2 linked regions of the Homo sapiens genome follow. The protein of the gene in region 1 purifies or fractionates together with the protein of each later gene. This does not show direct contact. Each region holds a gene or a part of one and is shown on either strand. Other genes may lie near its edges.

Region 1 (5,560 bases):
TCCCAGCCCCCTCCTATGCATGTCCCTTTCACCTCCAGCCATCCTGGAGTGAGCACTCCCTCCTTGGAGTGCTCCCTCTCTCCCTAGCTCTGCCCTGGAATGCTTACCTGGATCTTGGGCCAGGATAAGAAAGGCTCCACCTCAGAGGGTACAATGCGGAGGTAGAAGATGCTGGGGAGGATGAAGATGAGGCTGGGGGCTGAGGTGGACCCTGGAGAACAAGAAGAAGGGACAGGAGTCAACCTGACTTGGGGACAAGGCCCATATTAGATGGGGTATGGGACTGGGGTGAGGTTTACTGACCGATAACTCCAAAGATATCCCGGATGGTTGGCACACAGATGACAAGGACATTGACCAAAACAAGCAGGATCAGAGCTATGGCCACATGTCGTGGCCAGCTGAAGGCCTTGCCTGGGAAAAGCAGCTGCTGCAGGGCCCGGCGGATCTGTGGCCAGAGTAGGGTGGGACAGAAGTCAGGACCCAAGTGCTGCCCCCCTTCCACGTGATCATCTGTCTTTAGCTCCACCCTCTGGCTGAGATCCCTGATTTCCCCTCCCTCTGACTATCTATGGCTCCACCCTGCCTAACCCAACATCTGTGTCTCTATGTTCTGAACAGGCTTCCTGCCTCCATCCTCTGACAATCCACGTCTCTTCCTTCTGTCTGAACACCCATCGGCACCTGCACCCACTGTCTGAAATCCTTGCCTCCTCCTCTAGCTGACCATCTTTGCCTTCTCCTTCTGTCTGACCATCCACCGATCCTTCCACCCTGTGTGAGCTCCCTGCCTCTCTCCATCTGACCTCTACCTCCCTCCTCTGTCTAATTAGTTCTGCCTCCCCATCTGGGAGACTTGACCCTCCTACATCCCATCACTTCAGCCTCCACCCTTTTTCTGTCCATCCCTGTTTCTTAATTCTACCCTCCAACTGACCCTTCCTGCCTCCCTCTTCTTTCTAGCCATCCATCTGTGCCTCCTCCCTCCAACTGACTACCCTGTCCCCTGACCCTCTCTCTCCTGCTATCTATGTCCTCCCCACTTCTGTTTATCGATTTTTGCCATCTCTGTCCATCTGAAAACGCTGCCCTTTCCTGTCTGTCCATCCTTGCCTCCTTCATCCATCCATCCACTCCTGTTTCCAGCCTTGACCCACACATCCATGCCTATGCCCTCTACCCATCCATCCATGTCCCTCTCAGCCGTGGGCCCCACGCACAGGGAACAGCACGACTGGCACAGTGAGGGTCACCGCGAGCAGCACGGCCAGGCGCACACAGAGGATGAGCGGGTCCTTCTGGCTGTACATGTGCAGCATCTCCGCCTTCACACTGCCTGGGCCATGAGACAGAGGGTACGGGATGCAGGATGTGGAGAGAGCACCAGGACCAATGCCCCAGAAACCCATACATACATGCACAGTGACAAAATCCACACAAGTGAGGCACACCTTCTGTTTGGAAACTGACAGGTCCGTGGTCACAGAAGGAAAGAGCTCAGAGGCTCCTGCCCCAGGCCTTCCCCCTCCCCCCAGCCCTAGCCCCAGCCCCACTCACTGTAGAAGGTGAGGTATCCAAAGGTTGCTGTGAGCCCATACATGCAGAACATGGCCCCAATGGACACGTTGGCCACGGCCTGCATCCTGCGCTTGGAGGGCCTGAGGTGTAGAGGTCGTGGAACTGTCATGCCCAGACCCTGAGACTTGCCCCAGGTCCCTCAAAGCCAGCCTCCACCCTCCAGAGTCCCCTTCTCCCAGACTGCCATTCAGCTGGCACACATGGGGACACCCGTCTCTGCCTCCCCTGTGACTAGCCAAAATCCCCTCTCTGACCATCCATATCTCCCCCGATATGACTGTCTCCCTCTCCCCTGCGTTTGACTGCCACTGCCTCTTCCATCTGACCATCCATGCTGTCCCTCTGTCTGATCATCCACACATCTCCCATCATATCATCCCTGCCTCCGCCTCTGTCTGTCCGTACCTCCCTATCCCCATATCACCAGCCATGCATATCACCCCCTCCATCTGATCATCTGATCTCTGCTTCCCAACTCTGTCCATCCACATTTGTGCTGGATATTAAAATAGGAGAATACTTAAGCCCCAATCAGCAAACAGTCACTACCCTGAGTGCCCCAAGACCTCCTGGCCACCCCAAACCCCTCCCATGACACAACCTAGCTTCCACCAAGTGACAGTCCCAGGACTGCTGTAGGGAGTGTCAGACATTCTGGTTACCACCCCACTTGCTGGCCCATCATTCAGGCCCACTTGCCTGCCCACTCACCGGCAGAGCTCCGTATAGATGGGCAGCACCTCAGGGTGGCAGACAAAAGCAAAAGCCATAATGGGCACTGTGTAGGACATCTAGGGGAATGCCCGAGTACATGGGATTAGAGCCAACAGGGGTCCATCCCCTTCTTCCCATCCCCCTCCCGCCCCGTAATCGCCCTCCATATCAGACACATAGAAGCTCCCAATGTCGAATATCCAGCTCCACTCTGAGCAGGATGCACCATATGACAGAACCAGAGGGCCTGAGTGTGATGCAATCTCCTACATGCCTGCACACACACCTGTGAGTCAACTGTGAACATCTGGGCCTCACAGCTGCTGTTGAGTCCTTGGCTGGGGAGTCCCACGAGAGCTTCACTCTCCATTGCTGTTTCATTGTGGCCTATAGCACAGCCAAGTTGGAACTTCTTGTAGATGACCTGAGGATGGGGGCAGCAGGGAAGCCAGGTCATGGAGGAAGCTATGTCCCAATGTCCCAAACTCTCTCCCCGCTTCTCTGTGACTCACCGAAACAAGGAAAAACAGCATGCAGGTCAGAGAGAGACCACTGGTGTACCCCAGGTAGCCTAAGAGGGGCAAAACACAGAGTCTCAGAAATCAGCCAGGCGTGGTGGCTCACACCTATAATCCTAGCGCTTTGGGAGGCCTAAGCGGGTGGATCACCTGAGGTCAGGAGTTCGAGACCAGCCTGGCCAACATGGCAAAGCCCCATCTCTACTAAAAATACAAAAATTAGCTGGGTGTGGTGGCGCATACACCTGTAATCCCAGCTACTCGGGAGGCTGAGGCAGGAGAATCGCTTGAACCGGGAGGCAGAGGTTGCAGTGAGCCAAGACCACGCCATTGCACCACTCCAGCCTGGGTGACAGAGTGAGACTCGGTCTCAAAAAAACAAAACAAAACAAAAAAATCAATGGACCCCCGGAACAGTGAACTCCAAACACCTAGTCTAGCCTTCAAGGTCTACCCACCCCAGTTACCTTTGCATAAGCTTCTACTTCCACCCAGAAAAACCTCCCCTCCATAGCAAACTCCTACTAATCTGTTCAAGCCCACATCAAATAAGCTCTCTCCTAGTGTGCTGCAGCCCTTGAAAATGAATGGGGGTTTTCTCAGTCTGGCTTCTTCTGTCTAATCCCACTACCCAATGGCCAACCCAGGGAGCCTCTTACCCAAGTGTTTCATGAGGGCGAGGGGCAGGATGATTAACACACTGACGATGATGATGAGGAGGTTTCCCTTCAAGAACCAGTCCCTAGAGAGACAGGAAGACACAGTGCCTAGCTGCCAGCCAAAGGAAACTGTCAGGCAGACACTCACAGAAGACAGCTGGACAGGCAGCTTTCTGCCCTAAGTCAGGAGAGTTAAGCTGACAACCTCAGCTTGAGAAGTCATTCAGGTGGTCACAGTGACAAACGGCACAATAGGGTTGACAAAAACAGTCAAGCTGATTATGAGATTGTCAGATACTATCAGTGGGACACAGCTAACACATACACAGCTGGACAAAACTTGCCATCAGACTTCGCAAGTGGTTGCACAACCAGAAGGTCAAACACCCCAAATCAGTCAGACTCAATGTAAAAATCAGTCCAGGCCAGGTGTGGTGGCTCACGCCTGTAATCCCAGCACTTTGGGAGGCTGAGGCGGGTGGATCACCTAAGGTCAGGAGTTTGAGACCAGCCTGGCCAACATGGTGAAACCCTGTCTCTACTAAAAATACAAAACAAATTAGCCAGGCGTGGTGGGGAGTGCCTGTAGTCCCAGCTACTCAGGAGGCTAAGGCAGGAGAATGGCATGAACCCGGGAGGTGGAGCTTGCAGTGAGCCGAGATCACGCCACTGCACTCCAGCCTGGGCGACAAAGGGAGACTCTGTCTCAAAAAAATAAATAAATAAATAAATAGCCAGGTATGGTGGCGCGTGCCTGTAATCCCAGCTACTCGCGAGGCTGAGGCAGGAGAATCACTTGAACCCAGGAGGCAGAGGTTGCAGTGAGCCAAGATCGCGCCATTGCACTCCAGCCTGGGTGACAGATCAAGACACTCAAAAAAAAAAAAAAAAAGGAAGAAAGAAAGAAAAAAAAGAAGGAAGGGAGGAAAGAAAGAGAAAGGAAGAAAGAAAGAGAGAGAAAGAAAGAAAGAAAGAAAGAAAGAAAGAAAGAAAGAAAGAAAGAAAGAAAGAAAGAGAAAGAAAGAAAGGAGAAAATCAGTGCAACACAAGGTGCCAGACACAAAGAGAGTGAGTCACGATCGTGGTATGTCTGACAGGTAGAGCAACAGTCTGATGATCCAGTAGACAAGCCACGATGCAGAGTCCATCAAAAAGTCAGAAACACACATGCATGCTTGTTTGAACAGCTCAAGGTTTGTTGGATGCCTGAAAGTATGCCTGTGGACTGATTTGGCTGCACAGCCAAAGAAAGACTGAAATAGAAACGAAATCATCCAGCTGGCCACACTGTTGGAACCAAGCTCTGAGAAAAGGTGGGATCTGTACAGATATTGGAGGAAGGTGACCAGGCAAGACAGTCAGTTAAGACAGAATCAGCTGAACAACTGCTCATGCATTCAAAACAACTTGATTGAATGCCTATGTTCTAGACATTCACATGGTCTCTTTCTATCTCATATACAGTTACACAGAAATAAACCAATGGGAGCTAACTATAATAATGAGACATCTCTGGTCACACTATCAGCTATCTAGTGTTCTCAGAATCAAACCAAAAATCTAAAAGGATACACACAGAGAGTAAAGATCAAGCACTCAGTTAAAATTGTCAGACTGGCCGGGTGTGGTGGCTCATGCCTATAATCCCAGCACTTTGGGAGGCCAAGGCAAGCAGATCACCTGAGGTCAGGAGTTCAAGACCAGCCTGGCCAACATGGCAAAACCCCGTCTCTACTAAAAATACAAAAATTAGCCGAGCATGGGGGCTGAGGCAGAAGGATGGCTTGAACCTGGGAGGTGGAGGTTGCAGTGAGCCAAGATGGCGCCACTGCACTCCAGCCTGGGCAACAGAGTAAGACTCTGTCTCAAAAAAATAAAATTAAAAAATTAACCGAGCATGGTGGTGCATGCCTGTAATCCCACCTACTCAGGAGGCTGAGGAAGGAGAATCGCTTGAACCTGGGAGGCAGAGGTTACAGTGAGCTGAGATCGTGTCACTGCACTCCAGCCTGGGCGACAGAATGAGACTCTGTCAAAAAAAAAAAAAAACTGTCACACAGACCAGAGTCAGACTGACAAAACCAGAGACAC
Region 2 (3,500 bases), on another chromosome or scaffold:
TACCATAAAACTTTATAAACATTGCTTTAGCTTTGATGTTTGGTCACGTTTGTTGTGCAGAAGTCACGTTTCAGGGTAGGTTCACCGCCAGACACGGTCACATCACCATTGGCTGTGGATTTCCAAGAAGCAAAGGAGCCAATCTCAGCAAAGCTCGCACTGGCATTTTTAGCTGCTTAAATTTGAAGAGCAGTTCAGCAAAGCTTGTGCTCCCTAAAATGGAAATGGGGTGGGAAGGTCACATCTCTAAATAAATTCAGCCATACCTCTCCTTTCAAGGAAGCTTCAGAAACACAATCATGTTTAAAACAGGCATTTTTCCCTTTGAAAATGACTATGCAAAGACAATATTTAAAATTATGAAATTCCTTAATACACTGTAATGTAAATTGAGTATCCCTTTTCCAAAATGCTTCTGAAGAGAGGTGTTTTGGATTCTGGATTTTTTTAGATTTTGGAATATCTGCATTACACCTACTGGCTTTCTTTTTTTTTTTTTTTTTTTGGAGACGAAGTCTCACTTTGCCACCGGGGCTGGAGTGCAGTGGCGCTCTCTCGGCTCACTGCAAACTCCACCTCCTGGGTTCACCCATTCTCCTGCCTCAGCCCCCCGAGTAGCTGGGACTACAGGTGCCCACCACCACGCCCAGCTAATTTTTTTTGTATTTTTAGTAGAGATGGGGTTTCAACGTGTTAGCCAGGATGGTCTCGATCTCCTGACCTCGTGATCCGCCCGCCTCGGCCTCCCAAAGTGCTGGGATTACAGGCGTGAGCCACTGCGCCCAGCCTCGGCTGAGCATTCTTAATCCAAAAATCCCAAATCCAAAATGCTGTAATGAACATTTCCTCTGAGCATCATGTTGGTGCTCAAAACGTTTTCGATTTCAAACACTTCAGATTTCAGATTAAGGATACTCAAACCTGTATATGATTTGATAGAATTTACCCATTCTAGACTTCAGAAAGTGACCTATAACTACATGTGAAACTACTAATATTGTTTAATTTTATATATATATATATATATATATATATAAATTCTTTAAATATAATGTGCAAAAGTGCCTGTCTACCTTCAAATACTATCTAAGTGGTATTTTACTGGTTCTAATACAGTTGACCATTGAACAACCCTGTTTGTCCAGCCTGGCCTGAAAAGAAGTCTATACTTTTAAAATGTCTTCCTTTTCCTTTTAGTAGTTTGACTATTAATGTGACTAGGTATGGTTTTCTTTGTATTTATCCTGCTTAGGGTTCACTGTGGGTTAATATTTAACACAATTTTTCAAAATTCTTAGCTTCTGTCTCTTCAAATATTGCTTCTAACTCATTTTTTCTCTCCTCTTATTCTCTTATTCCAACCCCATGCATGTTTATTTTTTTTTCACGGTTTCCACATGTCTCTTGTACTCTTCTCTGTATTTCCTAACCATTCTTCCCTCTGTGCTTCAGTTTGTTTACTTTCTACTTGTCTTCCAGCAGATAAGTGTCTTCCAGTTCACTTCAAATAATCCAGTACTGAGATCTTCATTTCAGTTACTATATTTTTCAGTTCTAGAATTTCCATTTAACTCTTTTTTATTGACCCCAGGTTTCTGGTGAAATTCCCTATCATTCCTTCTATTTTCCTGGAAACATTAGACATAGTTATTTTAAGTTCCAGTATGATAACTCCAATATCTGAATCACACATAAGTCTGTTTCTATTATCTGTTTTTTTATTATTATTATGTTTCGTAATTTTTGATTCAACACTGAATCCTGTAGACTAAAAATTGCGGGGGCTCTGGGTATGTTTTCTTTCTCCTATGAAGGTTACATTTTCTTCTGTCAGGTGGGGAGAAAGCACACAGATCACCTTAGTTCTGCTCTAGGCTAATTGTAGGTCAAGTCTGCTTGGAGTGAAACTGAAGCAGACCAGATCTAAAATTAGGCTAGAGCAGGCTTAGGGCTTGGCCATGTATTAATTCACCTGAGGAGCTGGGATGCTGATCAGAGCCACTTCACTTTAACAAGCGTTGAATTCCACCCTTTGTCTCCTCAGTCCTATGCTGCTGCTGACATTTTTGCTTACATTTTTGGCCTTGTGGCTTCTGCTAGATCTCTTGAAGTCTTATCCCATGTATATGAAGGCTAAAATATCATTAAGTAACTCAAGGGAAAGGTATATCCAGAGTCTGAGTTATGATTTCTATTGTTCTCTCCTGCCTGAGACTGTGTTCCTCAAGTTCTAGGCTCTTGGGCAATCACAAACCCAACCTCTGGCTCCTCAGCCCTGCAGCATTGCTGCTTTTTGCTGGCACTCTACTTCTTGTACTATGAACTGGCAAATGCCTTTGGGGGAGAAGCTAGGGTGAATATAAAGCTCTCCCTGTTGTACTTCCCTTTTCTTATTTTTTTTTTTTAGCTTTTATATTTGTTTTTGAGGGCAAGTGAGTCCAATACAAGCAATTCCATCATGGCCATAACCAGAAGTCTCTAGATAGTAAACTTTTATCAGAGGCTTGCAAAACAGCAAAAAACTAGTAATGTAATTAAACTTCAAGTTTAAATGATTAAATGGAACAATCTTTGCCCTTATCAAAAAATATTTTTTTTGAGAATCTCAAAAAAATTGGGTGCTTAGAATTCATCATATCTTAGTATTCAGCTTAATGGATAAATTTTTTTTATCTGTTTCTATATTCTGAAAAATACAATCAGGTGATAATACTATTAATTTTTAAAACTATTATAAAAAAATTCAAACACAAAATTAGGTATTTATTAGTTGTAAAGCTTTGTAATATTAGAAATTAAGATTATATGTGATTCTAAAAAACCCAACTGAAAACCTAGAAAATAAAGAAAAATAGCTTTAATAAAAAAATCAATTAGTAAAGAATAATATGGAATATTTAGTTTATTAGTATAGATCAGTGTTTGGGGCTCTGTGAAGAAGAATCCATCCTTTTCTGAATAAAAATGAAAGTTATTCATATATAAAGTTGATAATTTTTTCTTTTTTGCTCCAAAACAGTCCCTAACAATGACACTGCAACATTAATGAAGAGGAAAGTCAAACTAGGGGCAGTAACTACTGAGAAACTAGAACATAAAGGGGTAGGTAACAGAGTTACTGAAGATAAGACTTAGATATGCAATTACCTTCTAGTCCTATAGGTGGCAGGTGCTGTGGAGCTGGCACAGAGTGGTAGACGAGGAAGCAGGCCAGCATGCTCAGCTGTGATTCCTCCAAGGGCTGCCCGCTGAGGTAGGCGTGCACACACATATCACCCCCGACTGTGAGAGAAACAAATGGAACGGAACCAACTGATGACAGAACTGAGAGGCACAAGAAATATCTTCTATTACTTTTTCATCAAGAACTTATTGAACGCTCAGCATATATAAAGCAGGTTCTATAGCCGGTATTGAGGCTACTCTGACAAGCTAGACTGAGTCCCTGTCATTGTAGAGTTTAGAGTGTTGTTGGGGGAGACAGATATTACACAAATAAT

The links. The genes of interacting proteins can lie anywhere in the genome.
Region 2: the proteins of SLC38A5 (region 1) and ANAPC1 purify together in Homo sapiens (affinity purification with mass spectrometry; one large-scale study listed by BioGRID and IntAct). This does not show direct contact.

What each region holds. Positions count from the first base shown.
Region 1 is NC_000023.11:48,459,429-48,464,988, forward strand, and holds part of SLC38A5 (sodium-coupled neutral amino acid transporter 5), read right to left. Parts: intron 3,553-5,560; coding exon 3,470-3,552; intron 2,864-3,469; coding exon 2,805-2,863; intron 2,717-2,804; coding exon 2,579-2,716; intron 2,370-2,578; coding exon 2,290-2,369; intron 1,659-2,289; coding exon 1,558-1,658; intron 1,337-1,557; coding exon 1,221-1,336; intron 449-1,220; coding exon 304-448; intron 212-303; coding exon 108-211; intron 1-107. UniProt on the Homo sapiens protein: Symporter that cotransports neutral amino acids and sodium ions, coupled to an H(+) antiporter activity. Releases L-glutamine and glycine from astroglial cells and may participate in the glutamate/GABA-L-glutamine cycle and the NMDA receptors activation.
Region 2 is NC_000002.12:111,769,194-111,772,693, forward strand, and holds part of ANAPC1 (anaphase-promoting complex subunit 1), read right to left. Parts: intron 3,283-3,500; coding exon 3,148-3,282; intron 1,942-3,147; exon of another isoform or gene 1,868-1,941; intron 214-1,867; coding exon 98-213; 3' UTR 1-97. UniProt on the Homo sapiens protein: Component of the anaphase promoting complex/cyclosome (APC/C), a cell cycle-regulated E3 ubiquitin ligase that controls progression through mitosis and the G1 phase of the cell cycle.